Linked DNA regions of Homo sapiens: region 1 is linked to region 2. The links come from fine-mapping of genetic effects on gene expression. A gene starts in region 2. The other region holds a variant in brackets. All regions are shown on one strand. Distances are from middle to middle. Region 1 overlaps UBA52 (ubiquitin A-52 residue ribosomal protein fusion product 1). Region 2 holds the start of KXD1 (KxDL motif containing 1).

Region 1 (16,164 bases), 24 kb after region 2:
TCAGATAATTGCTTTGGTGTTTTTAAAGCTTGTAATGATCAGTAGGCTGAGGTGGGCAAATCATAAGGTCAAGAGTTTTTTAGATGGGGTGAGCACAGACCAATTCCTGTTTTATTTACTGATTTAAAATTTTGAGACAGTCTCACTGTCACCCAGGTTGGGGTGCAGTGGTAGGATCATAGCTTGCTGCAGCCTTGATCTCCCAGGATCTTGCCTCAGCCTCCCGAGTAGCTGGGACTGCATGCTTGTGCCACCACACTCGGTTAATATTTTGTAGAGATGGGGTCTTGCTATGTTGCCCAGGCTGGCTTCAAACTCCTGAACTTAAAAGCCTCCTGTTTAGTTTTGGTTTTTTATCACTTTTTTTTTTTTTTTTTGAGATGGAGCCTTGCTCCCATCGTGCAGGCTGGAGTGCGGTGGCGCAGTCTCGGCTCACTGCAGCTTCTGCCTCTCGGGTTCAAGCGATTCTCCTTTCTCAGCCTCTTGAGTAGCTGGAATTACCAGTGTGCGCCACCACCACCACGCCTGGCTAGTTTTTCTGTTTTTAGTAGAGACAGGGTTTTGCTATGTTGGCCAGGCTGGTCTTGAACTACTGACCTCTTGTGATCTACCTGTCTTGGCCTTCCAAAGTGCTAGGATTACAAGCGTAAGCCACAGCGCCTGGCCTTGCTACATTTTTTTTTTTTTTTTTTTTTTTACAGACATGGTCTCGCTATGTTGCCCAGAATGGTTTTGCACTGGGTCCAAGCAGTTCTGCCGCAGCCTCCCAAAGTGCTGGGATTACAGGGGTGAGGCACCTTGCTGGCCCCTGTTTTGATTAGGGTGCAGTGCTGGTGAAGCCGGTGCACGAGGCCAGTGATGCATCCTAATGAGGGGTGGAGTTGGCGGGACTTCCTGGGCCAGTTTGGGGACTTTCACAAAAGACCCCCATGACTCAGGGTTTTGAGTTCTTAACTGATCGAATGAAGGATTCAAAATTAACCACTCCAAGGGGGGATTGAAGGAAGAACCACTCTTAATGGACAAAAAGAAAGAAAGGGGAGGGAGTAACAGGGATATGAGCTCTAGCCGCCCAAGCTAGCAATGGCAACCCTTCTGGGTCCCCTTCCAGCATGTGGAAGCTTTCCTTTCGCTTCATTCAATAAACAGCTGCTGCTCACTCTCCTGGTCCGTGGACTCTTTTTGAACTGTTAACACTCCCCGCAAAGGTCCGCAGCTTCATTCTTCAAAGTTAGCGAGACCAGGAACCCATCGGCAGGAGAAACTGACTCATCGTGGGGGCTCACCCAGGATTTCCAAAGCGGTAACATCGGACCTCTTTCGCTTGCTACTCTGCTCTACTTTTCTTTAGAATTGAGGGCAAACACCGGGCACCTGTCGGCCATTTAAAAGCGACAAGTGCCGCCGCCTGACTAAAGACACAGATGTAAGGGTATCTGAGAAAGGGCTCTCTAACAACCCCCAGCCCTTCTGAATCGAGAGTGTTGTTTTGCCTAGAAACCAGTTCCCACTTTCTCTGCATTTTCTGGGTTGAACCGAGGGCTGGCCAAGGGTGGAAAACAGTGGCCCCAAGCTCCTGGTAACGCCCAGTCGAGATGACAGCGCTTTGTGAAACCTTTGTTAAACAGCCACCCAAACGCACTTCACCCACCCTTCGAGAGGCATGCCTCCTAGGTCCAAACGTCTATAAGGAAGACTTTCTTGAGAACTTGTCTCCAGGATTCTCTCTACCCCCAGGATGAAAACCCTCTGGATTAGGAATCTAAAACAATTAGGATGGCAACCCTCAGATCTGTGTTCCTGATGTGCCATGGCTTATTTTTTTATTTTTTTTGAGATGGAGTCTCGCTCTGACGCCCAGGCTGGAGTGCAGCGGCACGATCTTGGCCCACTGCAACCTCAACCTCCCGGATTCAAGCAATTCTCTTGCCTCAGCCTCCTGAGTAGCTGGGATTACAGGCACCACGTGCCACCATGACTGGCTAATTTTTGTATTTTTAGTAGAGATGGGGTTTCACATGTTGGTCAGACTGGTCTCGATCTGACCTCGTGATCTGCCCGCCTCGACCTCCCAAAGTGCTGGGATTGCAGGCGTGAGCCACTGCGCCCGGCCCCCATGGCTTATTCTAATGTAGATGGGCAACAATGCAAATATACAGGACCTGTTCCCCATATTCGACACCGAAGGCAATACCCAGGACAATATAGTGTGTGCCAATGGTTACTGGAAGGCTTAGGCCATTTCTCTTTCTGTCGTCCCCACCTCACTGGGAACCATTTCACCTATCATTTCTCTTGTTTAGGATCAGCAATCCAAACTACGGAGCTCTTCCACTCAGGGTACCACTCGCATTTGTGGGAGTTAAGTAAAATAATAGACCATCGACTGGGAGATCAAAAGTAGTATTCTTAAGATGGAAAGCGGGGACAAAAGGCTGTAGTGCATGAGACACTATTTCAGCCTTGGCCCAATCCCCTGTTGCCCCCCGCCTTAAAATTGCTATGTCTATGTACAATCTTTAAGGAGTTCATCTTACTGGGGCAGTTTCAAGCTCAGAAATATGCTAACTGGAGCCTTGTAAACCACCTAAGAATACACCCCAAACTTAGAACCCACTCACTGGAACAAAAACTTTCGGGCGCACTGGTAAGAGGCCGCTAAACCCAGCAGCCTGGCCTCCTTCTTTGTGGCTAAGAAGGGAGGGAAAAGAATGTGGTTGAAACTGCTACGTCGGTAAGCACAATTAAATCTGATAAGCAGGGTTCCATGGGTGATTGTGCACCCTGGAAAATGGACACTAAAACAGTAGGGGACCTGCTAGAACCAGTGTCCACTGGGAATGACTAGGGGTGCGGGCATCCCTATGCTTTCCTTTCAGATGGGAGATTTTCCCTCCAAAGTGAAGTCGCCCCTGAGGTGTATTCTGAATAACTGGGACCAATTTGATCCCCAGACATTGAAGAAGCAGCTCATATTTTTCTGCAGCACTGCCTGGCCACAATATCCTCTTCCAGGAGGAGAACGATGGCCACCTGAGGGAAGTATACACTATAATACCATCCTGCAACTAGATCTGTTTTGTAAACAAGAAGGCAAGTGGATTTAGGTACCATATGTTCAGACCTTTTTCTCATTAAGGGATGATAACCCACGATTGTGTAAGACATGTAACCTGCACCCCACAGGGAGTCCTCAAATTCTACCCCCATACCCAGTCCTCCCCACGGCTCCTCCTACTAATGCCAAACCCTCTCTGGCTTCTACAGCCCAAAAGGGAACAAATAAAAGAGCCTTCAGAGAGCCAAGAGACCCCACTGGCCCCTGGCTATGTCCTCTTCAGGCTGTAGGAGGGGAATTTGGCCCAACCCGAGTACATGTTCCCTTTTCTCTCTCTGATCTAAAGCAAATTAAGGCAGACTTGGATGAAAGTTCTCAGATGACCCCAATAGATACGTAGATGGCCTGCTGGGTCTGGGACAATCTTTTGACCTTTCCTGGAGAGAGATCATGTTATTGCTTGATCAGACCTAACCTCTAATGAGAAGAATGCTGCTTTAACAGGAGCCCGAGAGTTTGGGGATACCTGGTACCTCAGTTAAGTAAGTGATAGAATGACATCAGAAGAGAGCAGTTTCCTACTGGCCAGCAAGCAGTCCCCAGTATGGATCCCCACTGGGACCCTGACTCGGATCATGGGGACTGGAGTCACAAACATTTACTGACCTGTATCCTAGAAGGGTTAAGGAGAACTAGGAAAAAGCCCATGAACTATTCAATGATGTCTACTATAACCCAAGGGAAGGAAGAAAACCCTATTGCCTTCCTCAAAAGGCTGAGGGAGGCTTTGAGAAAATATACTCCCCTGTCACCAGATTCCCTCGAAGGCCAGTTAATTTTAAAGGACAAATTTATTACTCAGTCAGCTGCAGACATTAGGAAAAAGCTCCAAAAGTTAGCCTTGGGCCGAGCAAAATTTGGAGGCATCATTAAACCTGGCAACCTCAGTGTTCTATCATAGGGACCAAGAGGAACAGGCCGAAAAGGAAAAGCAGGATAAGAGAAAGGCTGCAGATTTAGTCATGCCCTCAGACAAACCTTGGCGGTTCAAAGAGGAGAAAAAATGGAGCAGGCCAATCACCCAGCAGGGCTTATTATCAGTGCAGTTTACAAGGACACTTTAAACAAGATTGTCCAAAGAGAAATAAGCCGCCCTCTCACCCATGTCCACTATGCCAAGGTGATCACTGGAAGGCACACTGTCCCAGAGGACAAAGGTTCTCTGGGCCAGAAGTCCCCAACCAGATGATCCAGCAACAGGATGGAGGGTGCCCGGGGCAAGCACCAGCTCGTGTTGTCACCCTCACAGAGCCCCGGGTAAGTTTGACCATTGAGGGCCAGGAAATCGACTTTCTTCTGGACACTGGCACAGCCTTCTCAGTTCCACTGTCCTGCCCTGGATGGCTGTCCTCAAGGTCTGTTACCATCCAAGGGATCCTGGGACAACCTGTAACCAGGTATTTCTCCCGCCCCCTTAGCTGTAACTGGGAAACCTTAATTTTCTCACATGCCTTTCTCATCATGCCTGAGAATCCCATACCCTTACTGGGGAGGGACATATTAGCTAAATCAGGAGCTATCATCTGTATGAATACAGGGAAGAAAAGACCTATCTGTTGTCCCCTACTTGAGGAAGGAATCAACCCTGAGGTTTGGGCATTAGAAGGACAATTTGGAGGGGCAAAGAACGCCTGTC[C/A]AGTCCAAATCAAACTAAAAGACCCCACCCCTTTCCCTTACCAAAGACAATACCCCCTAAGACCTGAAGCTCGAAAAGGATTACAAGGTATTGTTAAAAATTTAAAAGCCCAAGGTCTAGTAAGAAGTTGTAACAGCACCTGTAACACCCCAATTCTAGGGGTACAAAAACCAAATGGTCAATGGAGGTTGGTGCAGGACCTCAGGCTCATAAATGAGGCCATAATTCCTTTATACCCAGCTGTACCCAACCCTTATAGATTGCTCTCTCAAATACCAGAAGAAGCAGAGTGGTTTACAGTCCTGAATCTTAAAGATGCCTTTTTCTGTATCCCTCTACACCCTGACTTTCAATTCCTATTTGCCTTTGAGGATCCCTCAGATCAAACATCTCAGCTCACCTGGACAGTCTTGCCCCAAGGATTTAGAGATAGCCCTCACCTGTTTGGCCAAGCATTGGCCCAAGATTTAAGTCACTTCTTGCACCCAGGTACCCTAATTCTTCAATATATGGATGACTTACTTCTCCCGTTGAGAGACCCTGTGCCATCAGGCTACCCAAGACTTTTTTTTTTTTTTTTTTTGAGACGGAGTCTTGCACTGTTGCCCAGGCTGGAGTGCAGTGGCGCAATCTCGGTTCACTGCAAGCTTCGCCTCCTGGGTTCATGCCATTCTCCTGCCTCAGCCTCCCGAGTAGCTGGGAGTACAGGCGCCTGCCACCACGCCTGGCTAATTTTTTGTACTTTTAGTAGAGACAGGGTTTCACCTTGTTAGCCAGGATGGTCTCGATCTCCTGACCTCATGATCCACCCACCTCAGCCTCCCAAAGTGCTGGGATTACATTTGAGCCCAAGGCCTTTTAAACTTTCTAGCTGATCGAGGTTACAAAGTATCTAAATCAAAGGCCCAGCTTTGTTTACAGCAGGTCAAATACCTAGGGCTGGTTTTGGCTAAAGGAACCAGGGCTCTCAACAAAAAACCTATCCAGTCTATACTGGCTTATCCTCACCCTCAGACATTAAAACAGTTGACAGGGTTTCTTGGAATAACTGGCTTTTGCCAACTGTGGATCCCCAGATACAGCGAAATGGCCAGGCCACTTTACACTCTAATTAAGGAGACCCAAAAAGCTAATACCCATTTGATAGAATGGGGACCAGAGGCAGAGGCAGCCTTCAGAACCCTAAAACAGGCCCTAACACAAGTCCCAGTTCTGGGTCTACCTACGGGACAAAATTTCTCTTTGTATGTCACAGAAAGAATGGGAATAGTTCTTGGAGTCCTTACCCAGACTTGAGGGACTACCATACAGCCAGTAGCATATCTGAGTAAAGAAATTGATGTGGTAGCAAAGGACTGGCCTCACTGTCTGCAGGTGGTAGCTGCAGTGGCCATTTTAGTATTAGAGGCTGTCAAAATAATACAAGGGAGAGACATCACTGTATGGACTATTCACGATGTCAACGGCATACTAACTGCTAAAGGAGGTTTGTGGCTGTCAGACAATCGCCTACTTAGGTACCAGGCCTTATTACTTGAGGGACTGGTGCTTCAGATGCGCACTTGTGCAGCTCTTAACCCAAACTTATGCTGCCCAGAAGGATCTTTTAGAGGTCCCCTTAGCCAACCCTGACCTCAACCTATATATATACTGATGGAAGTTCGTTTGTAGAAAAGGGATTACAAAGGGCAGGATATACCATAGGTTAGTGATAAAGCAGTAGTTGAAAGTGGGCCCCTCCCCCAGGGACCAGCACCCAGTTAGCAGAACTAGTGGCGCTTACCCGAACTTTAGAGCTGGGAAAGGGAAAAAGTATAAATGTATATACAGAGAGCAAATTTGCTTATCTAGTTCTACATGCCCATGCTGCCATATGGAAAGAAAGGGAGTTCCTAACCTCCGGAGGAACACCCATTAAATACCATGAAGAAATTATGAAATTATTACAGGCAGTGCAGAAACCCAAGGAAGTGGTAGTGGCCTTGCACTGCAAAGGCCATCAGAAAGGCAAAGGAAAGGAGGCAAAAGGAAATCGCTGCACAGACGCTGAGGCCAAAGTTGCCGCAAGACGGGACCTCCCATTAGAAACACCTATGGAGGGACCCTTGGTATGGGATAACCCCCTTCAGGAGACCAGGCCCCAGTATTCCCCTGCAGAAATGGAATGGGGACTTTCATGGGGACATAGTTTTCTCCCCTCGGGGTGGCTAGCTACTCAGGAGGGAAAGGTGCCCATACCCGCAGCTAATCAATGGAAAATACTTAAAACCGTTCACCAAACATTCCATAGGGGTATTGAGAATACCCATCAAATGGTCAAATCTCTGTTCACTGGACGAGACCTCCTTAAAACCATCCGGCAGACAGTCAAGGCCTGCGAAGTGTGCCAAAGGAATAACCCCTTGGTCCATTGCCAAGCCCCTCATGGAGAACAAAGGACAGGGCACTACCCTGGAGAGGACTGGCAGTTAGATTTCACTTATATGCCTAAGTCACGGGGACTTCAATACTTACTAGCCTGTGTTGATACCTTCACGAATTGGGTTGAAGCCTTCCCCTGTAAGACAGAAAAGGCCCAGGAGGTAATCAAAGCCCTGGTCCATGAAATAATTCCTAGGTTTGGACTTCCCTGTAGTTTACAAAGTGATAATGGCCCGGCTTTCAGAGCCACAGTGACTCAGGGAATTTCCAAGGCGCTAGGGATACAATATCACCTTCATTGGCCGGGCGCGGTGGCTCACGTCTGTAATCCCAGCACTTTGGGAGGCCGAGGCAGGTGGATCACGAGGTCAGGAGATCGAGACCATCCTGGCTAACACAGTGAAACCCCGTCTCTACTAAAAATACAAAAAATTTAGCCGGGCGTAGTGGTGGGCGCCTGTAGTCCCAGCTACTCGAGAGGCTGAGGCAGGAGAATGGCGTGAACCCGGGAGATGGAGCATGCAGTGAGCCGAGATTGCACCACTGCACTCCAGCCTGTGCGACAGAGCGAGACTCCCTCAAAAAAAAAAAAAAAAAATCACCTTCATTGCGCCCAGGGACCACAATCCTCAGGGAAAGTCGAGAAGATTAATGAAACACTCAAAAGGCACTCAAGGAAATTAACACAAGAAACTCACCTCCCATGGAAACTCACCCTCTTGCCCATAGCATTATTAAGGATCCTAAATTCTCCCCACAAGATAGGACTCAGTCCTTATGAAATGCTATATGGACAGCCTTTTCTCACAAACAACCTCTTACTTGATTGAGAAACTGCCAACTTGGTCAAGGACATAACTTCTTTGGCTAGGTACCAGCAAATCCTAAAGACATTACCCGAGGGATGCCACCGAGAAAAGGGAAAAGCATCGTTCCATCCCAGGGATCTAGTATTAGTCAAGTCCCTCCCCTCTACCTCCCCATCCCTAGATCCATCGTGGGAAGGACCATATTTGGTTATCCTCTCCACTCCAACTGCAGTCAAGGTGATTGGAGTGGAGTCTTGGATCCATCACACCTGAATCAAACCTTGGATACAGCCTGAAAAACCCGCAGAATCATTAGCTTGGGAATCTAAGAGTCAGCCAGACAAACCTTCTTACACCCACGAGCCATTGGAAGACTTATGTATCCTCTTTCAGAAGGAAAATTAATCAGTGCTCATAAGTTCTACCTCAGTTCTTGTTTTAAAAACAGAATGTACTCTAACATCCTAACATTCCTTGCCTTTGCCCAAGTCTTAACCTTTCCCCGCTCAATGTCTTCCCCTAATCTTGAGGGAATTATTATTATTATTATTATTTTTTTTTTTTTTTTTTGAGACAGAGTCTCGCTCTGTCGCCCAGGCTGGAGTGCAGTGACGTGATCTCGGCTCACTGCAAGCTCTGCCTTCCGGGTTCACACCATTCTCCTCCCTCAGCCTCCCAAGTAGCTGGGACTACAGGCGCCCACCACCACACCTGGCTAATTTTTTGTATTTTTAGTAGAGACGGGGTTTCACCGTGGTCTCGATCTGCTGACCTCGTGATCTGCCCTCCTCAGCCTCCCAAAGTGCTGGGATTACAGGCGTGAGCCACCGTGCCCGGCCTACCTTGAGGGAATTATAAACATGTCCTCCAGGTTTTTATTTGAAGCACTTCCCAATCAGAGTAACTCATCCTGTTGGGTTTGCATGAACCCTAATTTCCCCCTTATATACAGCAGTTCCGGCCCCCCTCAACATATGGGTGGAAAGCTCTGAGGCCTCATACATAGCTAACACTTCTAAGGGTCCAGGATTTTTTCATCCTAGTGATAGGTCCAATTTCCCTGACAGGGCTCAAGCAGCCTTAAAAGCAGCCGCCGCCATTCTCCGACAATTCGCTCTATCAGCTATCCCAATCATAGGTTCTGTGGGCACAATAACCTCCTTCTCTTCGCCTCCACTCCTTTGTATCTCCCATCAAGTGTTCCCATGATCACAAGGTGTGGGACACGTGGCTGGCTGCAACTATAGCTTGCCTTGGATATAGAGTTCAAATATTCTAATTCTTACAGTACGACTACTGGCACCCCAATGTTTTGTGGAAATAAACATGAGTTCCTTGGAAACCCTATTTCAGTCACCTATCCCTTAAGATTTACCACCCCAAGCCAAATAATTCCCCCACCAGAGGCCAAAACAACAAGCAATTACTGCTGGGGCAGACTTCCTTTTGCCCAGGATATCCCCCTCCTGGGACTTGGTTCCTCTCTCACAGGCAAAGGGTTAAAAAAACCCCATTGCTTCCTGCTTCCTGTCTGGGGTGCGCGAGTTTTTCTTTTTGTTGTTGTTGTTTTGTTTTGTTTTTGAGATGGAGTCTCGCTCTGTCGCCCAGGCTGGAGTGCAGTGGCGCGATCTCCCTCACTGCAAGCTCCGCCTCCCAGGTTTGCACCATTCTCCTGCCTCAGCCTCCCGAGTAGCTGGGACTACAGGCGCCCACCACCACACCCAGCTAATTTTTTGTATTTTTAGTAGAGATGGAGTTTCACCATGTTAGCCAGGATGGTCTTGATCTCCTGACCTCGTGATCCACCAGCCTTGGCCTCCGAAAGTGCTGGGATTACAGGCGTGAGCCACTGCACCCAGCCGAGAGTTTTTCTTAATGCAGCTAGCCACCGGTTTGCCTTACAGGAACCCCATAATACGTCCTTGGCAAATTCTATTCAGCTCCAACTGCTAGGAGTGGCCCATTTGTCCTGAACCCTCAAATCATGGGAATGAGAAATGAATTTAGACTGACCACAGCCCTTATGAGTTTTCAGCTACAGGGGTGTATAGAACCCTGATAAGGAGTTTTCTTTGTGTGTGGAAGATCCTTCTATATTTGCCTCCCCACCAACTGGACAGGAACTTGTACTTTAGCCTACATAGTACCTCCTGTGACTTATTCCTTTTCAGAAGAGGCAGTAGCTGTGCCCATTCATGCTAAGCTTCAGCCGAGAGCAATCTCACTACTTCCTCTATTGGCTGGTTTAGGATTTACTACCACCTAGGAAGTGGACTCACAGCCTAGATGAAATCTCTCTCCAACTTACTCAAATCCAGGACCAAATAGACTCATTAGCAGCTGTGGTTCTCCAGAACCAGTGAGCACTAGATCTCCAATCTCCTCACTGCCGAAAGGGGAGGAACATGCCTTTTTCTGAACAAGGAATGTTGTTTTTATGTCAATAAATCAGGCATAGTGAGAGATGGAATTAAATGACTTCAGGATAGAGCTAGCAGACTACATGGTGGGACAACCGAAACTACCTCAGGGTTCTCACAGCCTGTTCTCCACTGGCTTCTTCCATTTTTAGGTCCCTTCCTTATGATTATTCTAGGAGTAACCTTTGGCCCATGTCTTTTCAGTTCCTTCATCCTTTCGTTTCTTCCTGAATAGAATCAATGAAACTAGAAATGTTACTGCAGATGGAACCTCAGATGACTTCAACCAGCACCTATTATCAAGGACCCCTAAACCAGCCTGCCGGCCCATACCCGGACGTTGACACCCAAACCACCTCTCACGAGGAAACCTCAGCTACAGAACCCCTTCTATGCCCCTATTCAGCAGGAAGCAATTAGAGTGGTCATCCTCCCACACCCCAACAGCAGTTGGGCTCTCCTGTTGAGAGAGGGGACTGAGGGGTGGAGTTGGCAGGATTTACTGGGCAGGTTTGGGGACTTTCACAGAAGACCCCTGTGACTCAGTGTTTTGAGTTCTTAACCAATCGAGTGAAGGATTCAGAATTAACCACTCCAGGCCGGGCGCGGTGGCTCACGCCTGTAATCCCAGCACTTTGGGAGGCCGAGGCGGGCGGATCACGAGGTCAGGAGATTGAGACCATCCTGGCTAACCCGGTGAAACCCTGCCTCTACTAAAAATACAAAAAATTGGCCGGGTGTGGTGGCGGGCGCCTGTGGTCCCAGCTACTGGGGAGGCTGAGGCAGGAGAATGGCGTGAACCCGGGAGGCAGAGCTTGAAGTGAGCCGAGATCGTGCCATTGCACTGCAGCCTGGGCGACAGAGCGAGACTCTGTCTCACTAAAAAAAAAAAAAAAAAAAAACAAAAAAAAAAAACACTCCAGAGGAGGATTGAAAAAAGAACCACTCTCAATGGACAAAAAGAAAGGGGAGGGGTAACATAGGGATATGAGCCCTAGCCACCGGAGCCAGCAACGGCAACCCTTCCGGGTCCCCTTCCAGCATGTGGAAGCTTTCCTTTCGCTTTGTTCAATAAACTGCCCTGCTGCTCACTCTCCTGGTCCGTGGACTCTTTTTGATCTGTAACACACACCGCGAAGGTCCACAGCTTCATTCTTCAAAGTTAGCGAGACCACGAACCCATCGGCAAGAAAAACTCCCAACTCACTAACAGCCTAGTCCCTTCCCCCTTAAAGGCTGGTGTCTGTCACCCCATACCTGAGCTGGTCCCTCTTCACTAAGTCAGGCTACCAGCATCTTCCTGCTCCTCCGGCTGGGCCCCTGGAGGAGGAAGCTTTCCAAAGCTCTGTCTAGCCCATGTATCCCTCCAGCAGGAAGCTCCAAGGCCTCCTCTGTACTTTGAGGTCGTTCTGGCCCCTGCTATGCTCCAGGCTCAGGGCTATTACACAAGACACCCAATTCAACTCGGTGGGCTGTTGACACCGTCCCTGTCACTGAATCTTGTCTTCACCCCTGTGATTCTCTGAAGAGCCAGTGAATCTCTGTTAATGTTGGTGGAGTTCCAGCCACTGCACTTTTTTTGAGGCAGACTCACTGTGGCTCCGGCTGGAGTGCAGTGGCATGGTCATAGCTCATGGCAGCCCCCAACTCCCGGGCTCATGTAATCCTCCCACCTCAGCCTCCCGAGTAGCTGGGACTGGAGGCGGGAGCCACCATGTCGGGCTAATTGGTTTTTCTGTAGAGATCGGGCCTCCCTAGGTTGCCCAGGCTTACTTAACACTCTTGAACGTCAAAACCCACGCTCAGTACCCGCTTCAAGTGGAAGTCGGTGTTGAGATACAAGCATAGGAACGAACTCAAGGCTAACAGCTGTTCTGTATTCAGAGCCGCACAATCAAGGAAAAACACGATCGGAGGCGGGCCCTGGACGGGAACAAGAAGGGTGGGCTTGACTGGGCGGCCCGCGGTCTTGGTTCCCCTTTCTTCCTTCTGGCTGGCCGGCCGCAGGGTAGGGGGTCCGTGGACCTCCCGGCCTGTAGGGGGCGTCGGGCGCAGCGGAAGGGCCTGCTCCGGAGCCTGGCCAGGGCTGCGCAGTCATGATCACCGAGACCGCGGCGGAGCCTACGGTCCCTGCAGTGCCTGCTGCTGAGGAGGCCACCGAAGCTCGGGGACGCGAGGAGCCGGCGTGGCCCTGGGTGAGCCCAGGCCCAAGCGGGAACGGGCGCGGGGCGGGCGGCGCAGACCCAGGGGCGCGGGCTTCATGCCCCAGCCGTGCCCCCTGTCCCGCAGAAAGACGCCCCGATCCGGACGCTGGTGCAGCGCATCCACCAGCTGCAGGCTGAGCGCGCGCAGGGCTTCCGCCGACTGGAGGAGTGAGTGGGGGCGCGGAGGGGCTCAGGGTTCGGTCCCCCGCCCGCTCCGGGCGTGGGCGTGTTCTCGGCGGGCGTGCCTGGAGGAGGAGCTGGGTCCTTGTGTGGCTGCAGAGTCAGATGGGGCGGGGATTTCGGGGCACCGGGTCCTCACCTTCACGAAAAAGGCCCCACAGCACGTCCCCACTACCCGACGACTCACTCTTCGTGGCTTCTCTCTCCTCCCCAAGAGCAGGGGTGGGCCTGTCTCGCGTTCCCCTGCGGGAGTCAGGAAGCGTCCTTCCTACCTACCAGTCCTCCCCTCTGGTGTCTGGGGACACTTCCTGGGGGCCTTTCAGGTGGTTGGCGCCGGTGCAGGGCCTGAGAGCCTGGGGGCGCGGCCTCAGGGTCCCCACATGCCGCAGAGGCCACCGCCAGTACCTGCGCAGCGGCCCTGACTACGACTTCGCGCGCTACCGGAGCACAGTGCACGGGGTGACCCAGGCCTTCGCCGCCGCCTCGCGGGAGGTGCTGGCGGTGGAAGCAGAGCTGGGCGGGCCTCGCAGGCAGCCGCTGCTCGCCGGCCACGTGCGCAGCCTGCAGGAGCTGGAGCAGACGCGGCTGGGCACGGTGAGGCCACCACCCCTTCCCCGCCGTGTCTCTAGGACCCTGGCCGGCTCCTCTCATGACGCACCCCTGGTTGGGGGGTGGTCCCAGTATCCCATACACAGACCTCACCCCTTCCTGTCCCACCCCAATCCTCTATTAAGGCTTCACTTGGGGATTCTCGGACCTTGCCCTCTGCTGTTCATCCCCAATTTTTTTCCCAAGTTTTGTCCTTATTCCCAGAGCACTCCCGCTTTCTCCCAGCTCCGCCTAAATGCTATTCCAAGATGCCCAGATCCCGCCCCAACAATGCTCCACCCACTCTGGTTGTTCCGCGTCTAGGGTCCCACCCTCAACCTCCCGTAGATACAGGCGAGGGGGGTCCCAGGCCACGCCTCCTCCGTATTATTCCTCCATCACAGCTTTAGTTCTTTGCCTATTTCTCTCTTGCGATCCGCCTGCTCGGCCCTGCAACCGTGTGTGACTGGAATTCCTAGGCCACGCCCCCCATGAGCGACCCGTCTCAGCGTCTCTTTGGCCTTTTTCTTTCTGGTGTTTTTTTTTTTTTTTTTTTTTTTTAAGACAGGCTCTTGCTCTCTTGCTCTCTCACCCAGGCTAGAGTGCAATGGCGCGATCTCGGCTAACGGCAACCTCCGCCTCCCAGATTCAAGCGATTCTCCTGCCTCAGCCTCCTGAGTAGCTGGGATTACAGGCATAATTTTTGTATTTTGTATTTTTTTTAGTAGAGACGGGGTTGTGCCATATGGGCAAGGCTGGTCTCGAACTCCTGGTCTCAAGCGATCCGCCCTCTTCTGCTTCCCGAAGTGCTGGGATTTCAGGCGTGAGCCACCGCGTCCAGGCTTTTTGGCCTACTTTTATCCTGGGTCCCCGTCCCTGGGACCATGAGGCGCAACCTAACCCACCCCTACGGCCAATGCCTGGCTAAGACGTCACTGTTGTTCCCAGGCCACGCCCACATCGCGCTCAGCACTGCCTCTGGCCTGCCTGCTGTCTCCTTTCTGAGAGAGCCTCTAAACTGAATTTCGGACTCTTCCTACACAAAGCACTGCCCCTCGTGGTTCTACCCGGGCACTGCCTTTCTGGGTGCCTCTGTTTTTTCCTGAACATCCTTGGAGGGCAGGGGGTGGGTTCTGCTCGTGGAGACATCCTTCGTGTTGCTCATTCCCCCACCAGGTGGCCCTGCTGCAGTTGATGGAGACGCCAGAGCTGGCGGGGCAGGAGGACGCTGTACGGATGCAGCAGCTGAAAATGAAGTGAGCGCTGCTGCCCAAGCCGCCTGGCTATGCTCGATTTGCACCAGGGTTGGCACGGTCAGGACGCTGCCAGCAGAGGAACCCTCTGCCAGTGCACAATGGTGTTCTCACCTGGTGGCCCTCAGATGTACACTTCCCCAGAGGGCACAGCCGTGAAACTTCACATCAGTTTCGCTGTGCATTGCTGGGACACTGCTGTATACCTCGACACATGCCAATCCTGCACACGTGGCTGTCCGTGGAGCTTGGACATGCCCCACTGAGCACAGACCTTCAGATGCCTGTCCTCAGCCCCCAAGCACACACACTCATGTACACACACATTTGACAAAGTCACACTTCATAACCTCCTAATGGTACACACCCCACCAAGATGGCCTTTTCTTTTCTTTTTTTTCTGAGATGCAGTCTCACTCTGTCACCAGGCTGGAGTGCAGTGGCGCGATCTCAGCTCACTGCAACCTCCGCCTCCCGGGTTCAAGTGATTCCCCTGCCTCAGCCTCCTGAGTAGCTGGGACTACAGGCGCGTGCCACCACGCCCAGCTAATTTTTTGTATTTTAGTAGAGATGGGTTTCACCATGTTGGCCAGGATGGTCTCGATCTCCTGACCTCGTGATCTGCCCACCTCAGCCTCCCAAAGTGCTGGGATTACAGGCGTAAGCCAGCACGCCTGGTCCTTTATTTTCTTTTCTTTTTTCTTTCTTTTTTTTGAGATAGAGTCTTGCTCTGTCACCCAGGCTGGAGTGCAGTGGTGCGGTCTTGGCTTACCGTAACCTCTGCCTCCTAAGTAGCTTGGATTACAGATGCCCGCCACCATGCCTGGCTAATTCTTGTATTTTTAGTAGAGACGGGGATTCGCCATGTTGGCCAGGCTTGTTTTGAACTCCTGACCTCAGGTGATCTGCCTGCCTCAGCTTCCCAAAGTGCTGGATTACAGGCGTGAGCCACCATGCCCAGCCCAGATGGCCTTTTCTCTCAGCCCACTGTGACCTATGGGGCCACCCCTTCTCCCTAGCACCTAAGTGTTCCCTCTTGCTGCTAGTGCTGCCTGGAGGTTTGGCGGCGGGCAGGAGGGCCTGGGGCTCACCACAGCCACAGCCCTCTTGCAGCTTCGCGGCAGCAGCTAATTCACCCCATCTGGGTTTTATTTATAGTTCCCATCCGCTCTTGTAGGGTAATTAAAACCATGGAGGCGATCAGCGAGGTTCTCCAGGACCTTAGGTTTGATGCGGAATCTGCCGAGTGATGGCGGCTCCCCAGGGATGCGCCGAGGGAGATGGGAAACGGGGCGGATGGCGCCCAGCCCAGCCCTAACTGCCAGCTGGCTGGGGTTGCGCCCCACTGCGCTGCTGACCTTCCTGCAGTTCCAGACACCTCCCACAATAAAGAGCTCCTCCTCTGTAGCCGCTCTGCCATCTCTGTGTACAAGGGTGCTGCAGCCAGTGTGCCTAGGGAGGGGGCCCCCACAGGGCCAGGGATTGTGGGTAGAAGACTCCCACCCTCCCTAGAAACTGAGGTTTTTTTGCTTGAG
Region 2 (16,164 bases):
GAGGTTGGGAGTTCGAGACCAGCCTAGCCAACAAGGAGAAACCCCATCTCTACTAAAAATACAAAATTAGTAGGGTGTGGTGGCACATGCCTATAATCCCAGCTACTCGGGAGGCTGAGGCAGGAGAATCCCTTGAACTCAGGGGGCAGAGATTACGGTGAGCTAAGATAACGCCATCATACTCCAGCCTGGGCAACAAGAGCGAAACTCTGTCTCAAAAAAAAAAAAAGAAAAAAAAAAAGGCATCCTAGGTAGGGCGCGGTGGCTCATGCTTGTAATCCCAGCACTTTGGGAGGTCGAGGTAGGCGGATCACCTGAGGTCGGGAGTTTGAGACCAGCCTGACCAAATGGAGAAACCCCATCTCTACTAAAAATACAAAATTAGCCGGATGTGGTGGCGCATGCCTGTAATCCCAGCTACTCGAGAGGCTGAGGGAGGAGAATCGCTTGAACCTGGGAGGCAGAGGTTCCAATGAGCCGTGATCCTGCCATTGCACTCCAGCATGGGCAACAAGAGTGAAACTCCACCTCAAAAAAAAAAAAAAAAAAAGCATCCTTGGCCGGGCGCGGTGGCTCACTCCTGTAATCCTAGCACTTTGGGAGGCCGAGGCAGGCAGATCATGATGTCAGGACTTTGAGACTAGCCTGGGCAACATAGTGAAACCCCGTCTCTACTAAAAATACAAAAAATTAGCCGGGCATGGTGGTGGGCGCCTATAATCCCAGCTACTCAGGAGGCTGAGGCAGGAGAATTGCTTGAACCTGGGAGGCAGGGTTGCAGTGAGCCGAGATGGCGCCATTGCACTCCAGCCCAGGCAACAACAGCGAGACTCTGTCTCAAAAAAAGAAAAGGCATCCTCATCTCCGTATGAATTCATGGTTTGTATTTATTTTTTATTTTTTGAGACAGGGTCTTGCTCTGTTGCCTGACTGGAGTGCAGAGGTGCAATCACGGCTCACTGCAGCCTCCACCTTTGGGACTCGGGTGATCTCACCTCGGCCTCCTGAGTAGCTGGGACTACAGGCATGCGCCACCACGCCCAGCTAATGTTTTTGTTTTTGTTTTTGTTGTTGTTTTGAGACAGAGTCTCACTTTGTCACCCAGGCTGGAGTGCAATGGCGCGATCTCAGCTCACTGCAAACTCCGCCTCCTGGGTTCAAGTGATTCTCCTGCCCAGCCTTGTGTGTAGCTGGGATTGCAGGCACGTACCACCATGCCTGGCTAATTTTTGTATTTTTAGTAGAGACGAGGTTTCACCATGTTGGCCAGGCTGGTCTCAAACCCCTGACCTCATGATCCACCTGCCTCGGCCTCCCAAAGTCCTGGGATTACAGGCTTGAGCCACTGCACCTGGCCACTGAGCCACCGCGCCTGGCCACTTGTTTTGTTTTTTGAGACAGAGTCTCACTCTATCACCCAGCTGGAGTGCAACGGCACGATCTCGGCTCACCGCAACCTCAGCCACCTGGGTTCAAGCGATTCTCTTGCCTCAGCCTTCCAAGTAGTTGGGATAACAGGCATGCGCCACCTCGCCCAGCTAATTTTTGTGTTTTTAGTAGAGACAGGGTTTCGTCATGTTGGCCAGGCTGGTCTCAAACTCCTGACCCCAGGTGATCTGCCCCCCTCAGCCTCCCAAAATGCTAGGATTACAGGAGTGCACCTGGCCATGTTTGTATTTTTTGTAGAGACAGACTTTTGCCATGTTGCCCAGGCTGGTCTCAAACTCCTGAGTTCAACTGATCTGCCCGCCTCGGCCTCCCAAAGTGCTAGGATTACAGGCATGAACCACTGCACCCAGCTTCATGATTTGTATTTATTTGGAGAATGGGTCTCTGTCACCCAGGCTGGAGTGCAGTGGCTTGATCACAGCTCACTGCAGCCTCAAACTCCTGGGTTTAAGTGATCCTCCCACCTCATCCTTCTGAGTAGCTGAGATTACAGGTTTGTGCCACCACGCCTGGCTTATTGTTTAGCTGTGCCTGCTGACGGGTACCTCTAGAAGCAGTGACACCCCAGCAGCAATGAGCACACACAGCACCCAGATCTTAGTTTAATTTTTTTTTTTTGAAGACAGAGTCTCACTCTGTCCCGCAGGCCGGAGTGCAGTGGCGCAATCTCAGCTCATTGCAACCTCTGCCTCCCTGGTTCAAGCCATTCTCCTGCCTCAGCCTCCCTAGTAACTGGGATTACAGGCACACGCTGCCACACCCGGCTAACTTTTTGTGTTTTAGTAGAGACAGGGTTTCACTGTGTTGCCCAGGCTGGTCACGAACTCCTGAGCTCAGGCAATCTGCCTGCCTTGGCTTCCCAAAGTGTTAGGATTACAGGCATGAGCCACCGTGCCCGGCCTTTTTTTTTTTTTTTTTTTTTTGAGATGGAGTCTTGCTCTGTTGCCCAGGCTGGAGTGCAGTGGCGTGTTCTTGGCTCACTGCAACCTCTGTCTCCTGGGTTCAAGCAATTCTCCTGCCTCAGGCTCCCGAGTAGCTAGGACTACAGGTGTGCACCACAATGCCCAGCTAATTGTGTGTGTGTGGTGTGTGTGTGTGTGTGTGTGTGTGTTTTAGTAGGGACGGGGTTTCACCATGCTGGCCAGGCTGGTCTCAAACTCCTTACCTCAGGTAATCTGCCCGCCTCGGCCTCCCAGAATGCCGGGATTACAGGCATGAGCCACAGCACCCGGCTAATTTCTTTCTTTCTTTCCCTTCTTTCCCTCCCTCCCTCCCTTCCTTTCTTTCCTTCTTTCTTTTTTTTTTTTTTTTTTGAGATGGAGTTTCGCTCTTGTTGCCCAGGCTGGAGTGCAGTGGTGTGATCTCGGATCACTGCAACCTCTGTCTCCCAGGTTCAAACGATTCTCCTGCCTCAGCCTCCCAAGTAGCTAGGATTACAGGGATGTGCCACCATGCCTGGCTAATTTTGTATTTTTAGTAAAGACAGGGTTACTCCATGTTGGTCAGGCTGGTCTCGAACTCCCGACCTCAGGTGATCTGCCCACCTCAGCCTCCCAAAGTGCTGGGATTACAGGAGTGAGCCACTACACCCGGCCTCTTTCTTTTTTGTTTTGAGACAGAGTTTCGCTCTTGTTGCCCAGGCTGGAGTGCAGTGGGTGATCTCAGCTCACTGCAACCTCTGCCTCCCAGTTCCAAGTGATTCTCCAGTGTCTCGAGTAACTGGGATTACAGGTGCCCACCACCATGCCTGGCTAATTTTTTTGTGTTTTTAATAGAGATGGGGGGGTTTCATCATGTTGGCCCAGGTGGTCTCGAACTCCTGACTTCCTGATCTGCCCACCTCAGCTTCCCACAGTGCTGGGATTACAGGCGTGAATCACTGAGCCCCGACTGATCTTGGTTTCTAAATCCTACTCTTGAAGCAAAGGAACCAGGTTCCTTGGAGAAATGGCTGATTCCAGGGATTTTACACAGCATTGGATCATGTTGTGGAGCCCAAGATAAATAATGCTCAGAGAATGGTGGCGACATATTAAAAGGACACAGGAGCTTATTTATTATTTATTTATTTATTTATTGAGACGGAGTCTTGCTCTGTCGCCCAGGCTGGAGTGCAGTGGCTCGATCTCTGCTCACTGCAAGCTTCGCCTCCCGGGTTTGCACCATTCTCCTGCCTCAGCCTCCCGAGTAGCTAGGACCACAGGCACCTGCCACCACGCCTGGCTAATTTTTTGTATTTTTAGTAGAGATAGGGTTTCACCATGTTAGCCAGGATGGTCTCAATCTCCTGACCTCATGATCCGCCCGCCTCGGCCTCCCAAAGTGCTGGGATTACAGGCGTGAGCCACTGCACCCAGCCAGGAGCTAATTTAAAGGGGCAGGAAAGGAAATAATTATAATTATAATGATGTGGATTTATTAATCCACATCAGTTTATAGCGATTTTTGTTGTTGTTGTTGTTGTTGCTTTTTGAGACAAAGTCTCATTCTGTCACCCAGGCTGGAGTGCAGTGGCACAATCTCGGCTCACTGCAATCTCCGCCTCCCAGGTTCAAGAGATTCTCATGCCTCATCCTCCTGAGTAGCTATGATTATAGCACCTGCCACCACGCCAGGCTAATTTTTTTTTTTTTTTTTTGGATTTTTAGTAGAGACGGGGTTTCACCATGTTGGCCAGTCTGGTCTCAAACTCCCGACCTCAGGTGATCCACACGCCTGGCATCCCAAAGTGCTGGGGTTACAGGCGTGAGCCACTGCGCCGGGCCTGTTTGTTTTTTGAGACTGGGTCTCACTCTGTTGCCCAGGCTGGAGTGGGGTCTTCGTTCACTGCAACTTCTGCCTCCTGGCCTCAAACGATACTCCTACCTCAGCCTCTTGAGAAACTGGGACCACAGGCTCGGGCCACAGGCCCGTTTTTTTTTTTTTTTCCAATTGTAGCTGTGAGGCATTTTATTACAAAAACTTGGTACTCGTATACACAAACTAACATGAACTTAAAATACATTTTCTTCATTTTTTAGCTTGACCTTCTTTTTTTTTTTTGAGACGTGGTCTTGCTCTATCGCCCAAGCTGGAGTGCAGTGGTGCGATCTTGGCTTACTGCAGCCTCTGCCTCCTGGGTTCAAGCGATTCTCCTGCCTCAGCCTCCTGAGTAGCTGGGATTACAGGCTCCCGCCACCACTCCCGACTAATTTTTTTTATTTTTAGTAGAGACAAGGTTTCACCATGTTGGTCAGGCTGGTCTCGAACTCCTGATCTCGTGATCCGCCCGCCTCGGCCTCCCAAAGTGCTCGGATTACAATGACAGGATGTGAGCCACCGCGCCCAGCCTGTAAACCCTTTTGAAAAAATTCCCCAGCGCATTACTCCAAAACAACGTGGAAGTGTAAATGGAAACCAGGGCTGGGCGCGGTGGCTCATGCCTGTAATCCCAGCACTTTGGGAGGCCGAGGCGGGCAGATCACCTGAGGTCGGGAGATCGGGACCCGCCTGACCAACATGGAGAAACCCTGTCTCTACTAAAAACACAAAACTTGCCGGGCATGGTGGCACATGCCTGTAATTCCAGCTACTCCGGAAGGCTGAGGCAGATGAATCGCTTGAACCTGGGAAGCGGAGGTTGCGGTGAGCCGAGATCACGCCATTGTACTCCAGCCTGGGCAACAAGAGCGAAACTCTGTCTCAAAAAAAAAAAAAAAAAAAAAAAAAGGAAACTTGGACCAAAAAAATCAGCAAAAGTGGAGCAGGGATGTCTGAACACAGATGAGTCTAATTCCCTGCTTGGAAAGCAGGACACCTGAGTGTGGTTTGGCCTCTGACCACTGTAGCATTTACGACCTTGGGGAGGGTTACCACTCTGGGACCTCAGTCACACTATCTACAAAATGGGACACTTCTCTCAGCCTTCCTTCTTCCGGGCCGCTTTCAAGCCTGGGCTTCTGGAAATACGCAGGCGCGAGATGAATTGTTTGATTGGCTATTCATTGTGATGCACCCACGAGCTGAAGCTCCGTCTAAGCCCCGCCCTTTCCTGTCGTGACTTAACGCACGCAAGCGGCTCCAGGGTACGTCCCCGCCACGCGCGCTCGCAGGATCGGTGCGTGGTGACGTTTCGCCGGCGCGGGCGCCATCCCGGAAGCGCGAGCAAGGCCGCCAGATGTGCAGGTGCCGCCGCTACCGACGCCGGGGCCGAGTTTGGGGTGGGGCTGGGGACTCCAGGGCCGCGGGGAACCGGTCCGGGTCGGGCGCGGCCCCCGGGCTGCGGTGGGGTGGGGTGCGCCACTGGCCACATCTGGTCATTCCTGCTGCGCACAGGCCTCAGTTTCCCCGTCTGCTCAATGGATACGCAGGCGGCGCTACGGGCTGGATCTGGATCCGGATCAGGGGCATAGGAATTGGGGCCTCCTGTGTTCTGGGTGTGTCGTGTAACCTGGAGCTGGGCGTTGCCCGGTTTGTGCCTCAGTTTCCCTGTATTGTAGGGGACGGGGCGTGAGGGGATATTTGAGCCCCTCCCCACTTGGGGTTTTTCAGAGCTTGGATGGCTGAGTTAAATTCTGTTAAATAACCTGGATATAGAACCGTGGTGCTTCTCTGCCTCTCCCTGTGAGTTTCGGCAACGGAGCCCGCCCCTGTGAGCCTCAGTTTCACTCGGAGATGATTGTGTCTGCCTCGTAACGGTGATTGAGGATGAAATGAAGTGCTCTACAAGTGTTTGCCCGTAATATATTCTTAGAGGCCCCTGGGATGCTCTCAAAATGTTGATTCCCGGGACTTCTTCACACTCCTCTTGGAGAAACAGCCTGTCCTGAGCTCCAGTCGTTATCACCTTTGGTTTCAGTTGCCACAGACAGCACTGTGAGATCTTCATTCTACCTTATTTTCATTTTATGGTTGAAAAAACTGATTCAGAAGGGTGAAGTGGCTCTCCCATGGTCAAACAGCCTACCTCTCTGCGTTTCTTCAATAAATCTACATTTGGAGTTGGGATCAGAGCTCTTGCTGGGTCAATTTCACTGTGTATGTGGGCCAGACTAGCAGTAATCAGGGAAGGCTTCTTGGGAGAGGAAGTTGCGGGGGGACGGGAGGGAGGTGCCAGGAACCCCTCAGCCCTCACATCTGGGAGCCAGAGACAGAAAAGAGTCCTGTTTTGAAGGAGGAGTGTATCCCAGAAGGTCCCAGTACTGTGTCTCACTGGTACTAGCTATGGGCCTCCCTCTCCAGGTGTCTTTTTTTTTTTTTTTTTTTTTTTTTCAGTTGAGATGAAGTCTCCCTCTGTAGCCCACACTAGAATGCAGTGGCTTGATTTTGGCTCATTGCAACCTCTGCCTCCCGGGTTCAAGCGATTCTCCTGCCTCAGCCTCCTGAGTAGCTGGGACTACAGGTGCCCGCCATCATGCCTGGCTAATTTTTGTATTTTTAGTAGAGACGGGGGTTTCACCATGTTCACCAGGCTAGTCTTGAACTCATGACCTCAGGTGATCCACCAGCCTTGGCTTCCCAAAGTGCTGAGATTACAGGCATGAGCACCCGGTCCAGGTATCCTCTTTATACAAGATCATGCTTCTTTGGGAATGTGGAGACTGGGTGTCTCTGCATGGCATGTCATAGGAGTTCAATAACCATAGTTATTATTAGAGGGAAGGGGGTTTTGCTGGGTGTGGCACCTTATTTCTAGAAGGTGCTGCAAACCACTGACCAGATACAGATCACAAATAGATGCTCTTGGCCTCCATGATATCTTGGAAAAAAGTATTGATTGCTGACATTTGTCAATGAGGCAATTTCCCAGAAAAAAAAAATCCCTGTTTCCTTTTTCCTGGAGAAACATCAGAAGTCAGGCAGAAATCAGCTGCTGTAAGAAGCCACTGTCCTGTCACAGCTGGATATTGTGCACCTGTTCAGATTCACACCTTTGTGAGACCCGTGGGCTGTGGCCGTTTGTTGTGACTTAGGTTCACTGGCTGTGTGACAGTGGCCCAGTTTCTCAGTGTCCCTGAGCCTCAGTTTTCTCATCTATAAATAAGAATGATAACAGTATGTATGAGCTTGATGCTTTGTTTAGCATAGAGTAGCTGCTGAATAAATGGGAGAGTACATTAAGTGAGCTCTGAAACCCTTTCTTTCTCTTTCCTTTCTTTCTCTCTTTCTCTGTCTCTCTCTCTTTCTCTCCTCTCTCTTTCTCTCTTTGTCTCTCTCTCTTTCTCTCCTTCTCTCTCTCTTTCTCTCTCTCCCTTCCTTCCTTCCCTCCCTCCCTCCCTTCCTTCCTTCTTTTCGAGATGGAGTCTCACTCTGTCGCCCGGGCTGGAGTGTAGTGGCATGATCTCGGCTCATTGCAACCTCTGCCTCCCAGGTTCAAGCCATTCTCCTGCCTCAGCCATCCAAGTAGCTGCGACTACAGGTGCCCGCCACCATGCCCGGCTAATTTTTTTTGTATTTTTAGTAGAGACTGAGTTTCACTATGTTGGCCAGGCTGGTTTTGAACTCCTGACCTCAAGCAGTCTGCCCACCTCGGCCTCCCAAAGTGCTAGGATTACAGACGTGAGCCACCACACCCGGCCTCTGAAACCCTTTCTGATCCAGTAGAAGTTCGTCTCTGTTTCTTGGCTATTAAATGTGTGGGCCTCAGAGCCAAACTATATCAAGATCCTAGATTTTTCCTGAACTCCCTAGGAGGGTCAGTGCTGTAGCCCCTCCTACCCTGGCTGCTCCGGGAAGTCCCTGCCTGCCATTACGGTCATCTGTGTGCCAGCAAAACTGGGAACCTCAGAACCATCTGGATTGCTGGGGCCCACAGGTTGGCTGTGAGTACCTGCAATTCTTGGCTTTAATTTGCTAATAAAAGTGTCACGTCAGAGCTGAGTTTGAAAAGTTCTGTTGCCCTTCCCCACAACAACATTCTGGCAGCCCCTTGCTATGAGCCAGACTCCGGGTCGGGTTCTGGTGACAGACACACCTCTACTCCTTCTTTTTTTTTTTTGAGACGGAGTCTCTCTGTTGCCCAGGCTGGAGTGCAGTGGCACAGTCTTGGCTCACCACAACCTCCGCCTCCTGGGTTCAAGTGATTCTCCTGCCTCAAGCTCCCGAGTAGCTGGGACTAAAGGTGCCCACCACCATGCCTGGCTAATTTTTGTATTTTTAGTAGAGATGGGGTTTCACTATGTTGGCCAGGCTGGTCTCGAACTCCTGACCTCGTGATCCACCTGCCTCGCCCTCCCAGAGTGCTAGGATTACAGGCGTGAGCCACAGCACCTGGCCACCTCTGCTCTTTTGGAGCTGACGTTGTGGCGGTGACAGGCAAACGGGTTAGCTGATAACTAGGATAATTTCATGAAGAGGTGAACCAGTGAAGCAGTTAAATCAAGGTAAAGGGTGGCTGGGCGCAGTGGCTCAGGCCTGTAATCCTAGCACTTTGGGAGGCCAAGGCAAAAGGGTCGTGTCAGCCTAGGAATTTAAGAGCAGCCTAGGCAACATAGCGAGACCCTGTCTCTTAACAAACAAACAAACAAAAACAAGGTAAAGTAGCCTGGGCGCGGTGGCTCATGCCTGTAATCCCAGCACTTTGGGAGGCTGAGGCGAGTGGATCACCTGAGGTCAGTAGTTCGAGACCAGCCTGGCCAAAATGGTGAAACCCCGTCTCTACTAAAAAATACAAAAATTAGCCAGGCGTGGTGGCGGGCACCTGTAATCCCAGCTACTTGGGAGGGTGAGGCAGGAGAATCGCTTGAACCTGGGAGGCGGAGGTTGCGCTAAGCCAAGATCGCGCCATTGCACTCCAGCCTGGGTGACAGGAGTGAAACTCTGTATCAAAAAGAAATAAAAAAACGAGGTCAAGTAGTAAGAGAAGCGGTAAGAGTGACGGGAACAGGAGTCATTGACCTCTTGGGAGAGGAGACATTGGAGGTGGTGATGATTTGCTGAAGCAGCCACACACGTTCAGCTTGTGAGGACAGCAGTTGTTAGGCAGGGGATGAGGGAGGAAGCTGGCAGATCTGTGCAGGTGAGAGGTACCTGTGGCCTTGGGCTCATGGAAGTGGGAGGTGATGGGATTCTAATGTGCTTGGGTACAGTTTACAAATACAACCTCTCTTAGTTTGCCCAATACCTCCAAATTCCTGGGGTGGCACACCTGAGGTTCAGGTGGCATGACTGAGCCACAGTCACACATCCCCACTGTAGGATACCACCACGGTTGGGTTAGGTTCCAGCACATGGCGGTCCCGGCCTGGCCTCTTGGTCCCACCTCACCTGGTGACTAGTGCAGACCACTCTGTTCTTGCCTGTTTCAGGCAGCGGAGGAGGAGAAAGAGATGGACCTCCCGGACTCGGCCTCGAGGGTCTTCTGCGGCCGCATCCTGAGCATGGTGAACACAGATGATGTCAACGCCATCATCCTGGCCCAGAAGAACATGTGAGTGGCGGCTGGGGGACCTGAGCGTGGGAAGGAATCCACAGGCTGGCCAACATTCTTGTCTTGCCCGCCCCTACCCGGGGCCCACACTGGTGATAAAATGAAGGAAATGAGCAAATCTGTCGCTGGCTCCAAAGTAAATTCCTTCCCGGCCTGGAGGCGAGGCCTTGGCACAGGAAGCAGGGCTTTGGGGAGATTTTGCAGCTGCGGATGGCTTGGCGGGGGCCGCAGGGGCTCCTGTCCCGAGACCTGGGGTGGGAGAGTTGAAGGACCAGAGGGGGCCACATGCAGGTTTTTTTGTTTATTTGTTTCTTGTTTTTGAGACAGAGTTTTGCTCTTGTTGCCCAGGCTAGAGTGCAATGGTGTGACCTTGCCTCACTGCAACCTCCGCCTCCCGAGTTCAAGCGATTTCTCCTGCCTCAGCCCTCTGAGTAGCTGGGATTACAAGCATGTGCCACCATGCCCAGCTAATTTTTGTATTTTTAGTAGAGACGGGCTTTCATCATGTTGGTCAGGCTGGTCTCGAACTCCTGACCTCAAGTGATCCACCCGCCTCGGCCTCCCGAAGTCCTGGGATTATAGGCCTGAGCCACTGTGCCTGGCCTTTATGCAGGTTTTATGCTGGTGCGCCTACTTCCTGGTGAAGGACTAGTCTCCCAGAGCCCAGGCTGTGTCTGCACAGTGCCCAGGGTCTCTTGGAGCGGACATAAAGGCCTCTTGTCCTCACTGGGGTTTGGTGCTGTGGCTGCTGAAACCTTGCCCTAATTCAGGCCTGCCCTGTGGGGAAGAAAGGCTAATACCAAGCTTGTCCAACCCTCGGCCTGTCCAACCCTTTGAATGTGGGCCAACACAAATTCGTAAACTTTCTTAAAACATTACGAGATTTTTTTTGTGATTTTTTTCTTTTTCTTTCTTAACTCATCAGCTGTCGTTAGTGTTAGTGTATTTTATGTGTGGCCCAAGACAATTCTTCTTCCAATGTGGCCCAGGGAAATGAAAAGACTGGACACCACTGGGCTAATACAGTCTTGGAGTGGAAGCACAGCCTCCCGCAGCTTTGTTTTTGTGTCTCTGAGCCAGAGGCTCTTCTCAGCTGTCACGACACAGTACAGACCTGATTTCCTTACCTTTTCTCCCAGACCCAGAGCAGCTCCGAGTCTCAATAGTACCTGTCTCTCTCCTGTGTCTTTTTTTTTTTTTTTTTTGGGAGACAGAGTCTCACTCTGTCGCCCAGGCTGGAATGCAATAGCATAATTGCTGCTCACTACATCCTCTGCCTCCTGGGTCAAGTGATTCTCCTGCTTCAGCCTCCTGAGTCGCTGGGATTATAGGCATGCACCACCATGCCTGGCTGATTTTTTTTTTGTGACGGAGTCTCGCTCTCTCGCCAGGCTGGAGCACAGTGGCGCAATCTCAGCTCACTGCAACCTCTGCCTGCTGGGTTCAAGCGATTCTACTGCCTCAGCCTTCCAAGTAGCTGGGACTACAGGTGTGCGCCACCACGGCCAGCTAATTTTTGTATTTTTAGTAGAGACGGGGTTTCACCACGTTGACCAGAATGGTCTCAATCTCTTGACTTCGTGATCCGCCCGCCTCAGCCTCCCAAAGTGCTGGGATTACAGGTGTGAGCCACCGTGCCCGGCCCTGATTTTTTTATTTTTAGAAGAGATGTGGTTTCACCATGTTGGCCAGACCTCAAGTGATCCACCCTGCCTCAACCTCCTAAAGTGCTGGTCTCCTTTTTTTTGAGACATAGTTTCGCACTGTCACCCAGGCTGGAGTGCAGTGGCGCAATCTCAGGTCACTGCTATGTCCGCCTCCCGGGTTCAAATGATTCTCCTGCCTCAGCCTCCCGAGTAGCTGGGATTACAGGCGCCCGCCACCATGCCCAGCCAATTTTTGTATTTTTGGTAGAGACGCGGTTTTCCCATGTTGGCAAGGCTGGTCTCGAACTCCTGACCTCATGATCTGCCTGCCTTGACCTCCCAAAGCGCTGGAATTGCAGGCATGAGCCCCCATGCCCGGCTGGTCTCCTGTTTTTTTAGGTCAGATTCAGACCTGGCTCTGGGAAACTTCTAGACTGAGGGGAGACAAAGCCAGACACAGACCCTCCTGGCCCTATGGTGTCAGGGCTGGGCCAGAGGAACAACCTGGGGCTAGTGGAATTAAAAGAGTCTGATTGGGCCAGGCACGATGGCTCACTCCTGTAATCCCAGCACTTTGGGAGGCCGAGGTGGGTGGATCACGAGGTCAGGAGATCGAGACCATCCTGGCTAACCTGGTGAAACCTCGTCTCTACTAAAAATACAAAAAATTAGCCAGGCATGGTGGCGGACGCCTGTAGTCCCAGCTATACTCGGGAGGCTGAGGCAGGAGAATGGTATGAACCTGGGAGACGGAGCTTGCAGTGAGCCGAGATCGCGCCACTGCACTCCAGCCTGGGTGACGAAGCAAGACTCTGTCTCAAAAAAAGTCTGACTGAATAGAGGTAGACAAGGCTACATGAGAAGGACACACTTGAGTAGGGTTTTGAAGGTTGAATAGGAGTTTGCTAGGTGGCTCAAAGAGTAGGTAGAACTCTGCAGGACAAGGGAACAGCCCATGCAAAGGTTGTGAAGCAGGCAAGGGCTTGGCATGAACAGTCTTCTGGGCCAGGTTGGGCAGGGCCCTGAAGCTGGGCAGTGAAGCTCATGCCCTCTCTCCACCATCAGGCTGGACCGCTTTGAGAAGACCAATGAGATGCTGCTCAACTTCAACAACCTGTCCAGTGCCCGCCTGCAGCAGATGAGCGAACGCTTCCTGCACCACACGAGGACCCTAGTAGAGATGAAACGGGACCTGGACAGCATCTTCCGCCGTATCAGGTGGGTGCTCAGTGCCACCCCAGCCCAGCTGACCTCTGCCTCCACCTCCCCATCTGAGCCTCAGTTTCCTTCACATACCAGGGTAAAGGGAGATTTCTGTTTGTTTTACAAGGCTTCACTGCGCACTTAAGTGTCTGGGACAATTCCAACCCTGGGATAAAATCTTGACGTAAGTTTATTTACTGATTGATTAATTGATCGAGACAGAGTTTTTTTTTTTTTTTTGGAGACGGAGTCTCGCTCTGTTGCCCAGGCTGGAGTGCAGTGGCGCGACCTCAGCTCACTGCAAGCTCCGCTTCCCGGGCTCACGCCATTCTCCTGCCTCAGTCTCCGGAGTAGCTGGGATTACAGGTGCCTACCACCACGCCTGGAGAATTTTTTGTATTTTTAGTGGAGATGGGGTTTCACCGTGTTAGTAGTCAGGATGGTCTCGATCTCCTGACCTCGTGATCCAGCCGCCTTGGCCTCCCAAAGTGCTGGGATTACAGGCGTGAGCCACTGCGCCCGGCCGAGACAGAGTCTTGATCTGTGGCCCTGGCTGGAGTGCAGTGGCGTGATCTTGGCTCACTGCAACCTCTGCCTCCTGGATTCAAGCGATTCTTGTGCTTCAGCCTTCTGAGTAGCTGGGTCTACAGACATACTGTACCACACCCAGCTAATTTTTGTTGTTGTTGTTTTATTTTTGAGGTGGAGTCTTGCTCTGTCGCCCAGGCTGGAGTGCAGTGGTGCAATGTCAGCTCACTGCAACCTCCGCCTCCCAGGTTCAAGCGATTCTCCTGCTTCAGCCTCCTGAGTAGCTGGGACTACAGGCGCATGCTGCCACGCCCAGCTGATTTTTTGTATTTTAGTAGAGACGAGATTTCACCGTGTTGCCCAGGCTAGTCTCAAACTCCTGAGCTCCAGCACTCTGCCTGCCTCGGCCTCCTAAAGTGTTGGGATTACAGGTGTGAGCCTAATTTTTGTATTTTGTGTAATTTTTGTATTTTTTTAGTAGAGACAGGGTTTCCCCATGTTGGCCAGGCTCATCTCGAAGTCCTGGCCTCAGATGATCCATCCACCTCGACCTCCCAAAGTGCTGGGATTATAGGCATGAGCCATCATGCCCAGCCTTGCAGTTTATTTATTCTTAAAAAATGTAACACAGTGCGGCTGGGCGAGGTGGCCCATGCCTGTAATCCCAGCACTTTGGGAGGCCGAGGCAGGCGGATCACGAGGTCAGGAGATCAAGACCATCCCGGCTAACATGGTGAAACCCCGTCTCTACTAAAAATACAAAAAATACTAAAAATACAAAAAATTAGCTGGGCGTGGTGGTGGGCGTCTGTATTGCCAGCTACTCGGGAGGCTGAGGCAGGAGAATGGCATGAACCCAGGAGGTGAGCCGAGATCGCGCCACTGCACTCAAGCCTGGGCGACAGAGCGAGACTCCGTCTCAAAAAAAAAAAAAAAGTAACATAGTGCTAGACACATAATGAAAAGGCAGGAATGGCTGGGCACAGTGGCTCATGCCTGTAATCCCAGCAGTTAGGGAGGCTGACGCAGGCAGATCACCTGAGGTCAGAAGTTTGAGACCAGCCTGGCCAACATGATGAAATCCCGTCTCTACTAAAAATACAAAAAAATCAGCTGAGCATGGTGGCACGTGCCTGTAATCCCAGCTACTTGGGAGGCTGAGGGAGGACAATCATGTGAATCCGGAAGGTGGAGGTTGCAGTGAGCCAGGATGGCACCACTGCACTCCACCCTGGGCGACAGAGTGAGATTCTGTCTCAAAAAAAAAAAAAAAATTTATCAGAGAAGAGGCCACATGTAAGAAGCAGCCTCGCAGGGGGAGCCCCCAGCCAGTGCCTAGGCTCAGAGCACCCAGAGTCTAACTAGTTGGGGGTTGGTGCCTACCTTGGGGCTGGAGGCCGGCTGGTGGGCGACTGTCAGGGCCGTGGCTGCTGGGCCGAGCACCTAGAGAGAGTGAAGATGTGAGGTGATGAACAGTGTGGGGGTTCTCACTCCCGTCTCCCCTTGCCCTCAGCTGGCAGCAGGGGCTTGTGGCCAGCACCAGGCCCAGCCTACCTGCTCAGCAGGTTAAGCCCTGTGTGCCTTCTCTCCCCTGCAGGACGCTGAAAGGGAAACTGGCCAGGCAGCACCCAGAGGCCTTCAGCCGTAAGTGTCACGCAGGGTTCCTGCTCCCGAGCACGTCAGCACTCTCCACCCAGGGCAGGCTTCTGGAAGGCCACCTTGGGGCCTGATACTGAGACCAGGCTGTAATGGGCAGTGGGTCTGGGGAAACCTGGGGTGGGGGCAGGGTCAGGGTGCTGGCCTGGTCCTGTCAGCAGCTGGCAGAGTGGGCACTAGGACGGGAGTCCGTGCCCCGTGGGGAGGCCGCACAGGAGAATGTGGATAAGCAGCATGACAATCCTTATCCCTGTGTGCATTATGAGCCATCTCAGAACAGAGCACGGGCTCATGTGACACCAGCCCCGACATCGTCTCGCCTTCCCTGAGCCCCAGCTTCGAGGATCTGTCCCATGTCCAGCTGTTACCCACAGTCACCCATGGGGTGGGGACTGTGAGTATCACCGTTTCATGGAGAGGGAAACAGAGGCCCAGAGGGGCAGGACTTGAGTTCGCATCTGTCTGGCTAGAGAGCTCGCGTGTTCTCTGGGGTACCATTCCATGTTGCCACCACCTTAAAGGGCTCTGCAGGCTGAGCCTGGGTTCACACCATCTGTTGAAAAGGCCGACAGCTCTCCATCCCAGGGCCTCCAACAGCAGTTTACAGAGCAGGGAGCTGGGCTGAGGGGAGGTCATATACCTAGCCCAGGTAGTGCAGTGAGCCAGGTTCGCCCTCAGGGCTCCTGTAGGCCTAACCCCAGATCTTGTGTCCCTTCCTCACCTCACCTTGAAGGGAGGGCTCTTCCCTGCCTGGGCCTCAGTTTTCTCCTCTACAAAATAAAAATGGGCCAAGTCTGCCAGGCGCGGTGGCTCATGCCTGTAATCCCAACACTTTGGGAGGCTGAGGCGGGTGGATCACCTGAGGTCGGGAGTTCGATACCAGCCTGACCAACATAGAGAAACCCCGTCTCTAGTAAAAATACAAAATTAGATGGGCGTGATGATGGGCATCTGTAGTCTCAGCTACTCAGGAGGTTAAGGCAGAAGAATCGCTTGAACCCGGGAGACGGAGGTTGCAGTGAGCCGAGATTATACCATTGCACTCTAGCCTGGGCAAAGAGCGAAACTCCGTCTCAAAAAAAAAAAAAAAAAAGGGTCAAGTCATACCCCCATGGGGTGAGGGCAGCCGTTAGGGGTCACATGGACAATAAGTCCTACATCACAGAGCTTGGCAAGGTGACAAAACCAACTCTTGGGCCTCCTTCCCCCAGATATCCCAGAGGCATCCTTCCTGGAGGAAGAGGATGAAGACCCCATCCCACCCAGCACCACGAC

What was found. PIP is the estimated chance that this variant, and not a neighbour inherited with it, causes the effect.
Region 1: its variant is fine-mapped to the expression of KXD1 in esophagus muscle (GTEx, PIP 0.94).

What each region holds. Positions count from the first base shown.
Region 1 is chr19:18,576,302-18,592,465 of GRCh38, forward strand. UBA52 (ubiquitin A-52 residue ribosomal protein fusion product 1) reads left to right here. Exons shown (of 5, transcript NM_001033930.3): 5 at 1-1,249. It overlaps REX1BD (required for excision 1-B domain containing), which reads left to right and starts at 12,497. Exons shown (of 5, transcript NM_001100418.2): 1 at 12,497-12,599; 2 at 12,694-12,776; 3 at 13,112-13,382; 4 at 14,553-14,632; 5 at 15,807-16,036. The coding sequence starts at 12,501. The coding sequence ends at 15,879. RefSeq lists a silencer at 12,325-12,844 and an enhancer at 15,348-15,871. The variant C/A (reference allele first, on the strand shown) is at 4,755.
Region 2 is chr19:18,552,302-18,568,465 of GRCh38, forward strand. KXD1 (KxDL motif containing 1) reads left to right here and starts at 5,569. Exons shown (of 5, transcript NM_024069.4): 1 at 5,569-5,613; 2 at 9,735-9,856; 3 at 12,568-12,720; 4 at 14,831-14,877; 5 at 16,101-16,164. The coding sequence starts at 9,756. It also overlaps a transcript of UBA52 not described here. RefSeq lists enhancers at 4,596-5,387, 5,388-6,177, 9,802-10,387 and a silencer at 5,668-5,827.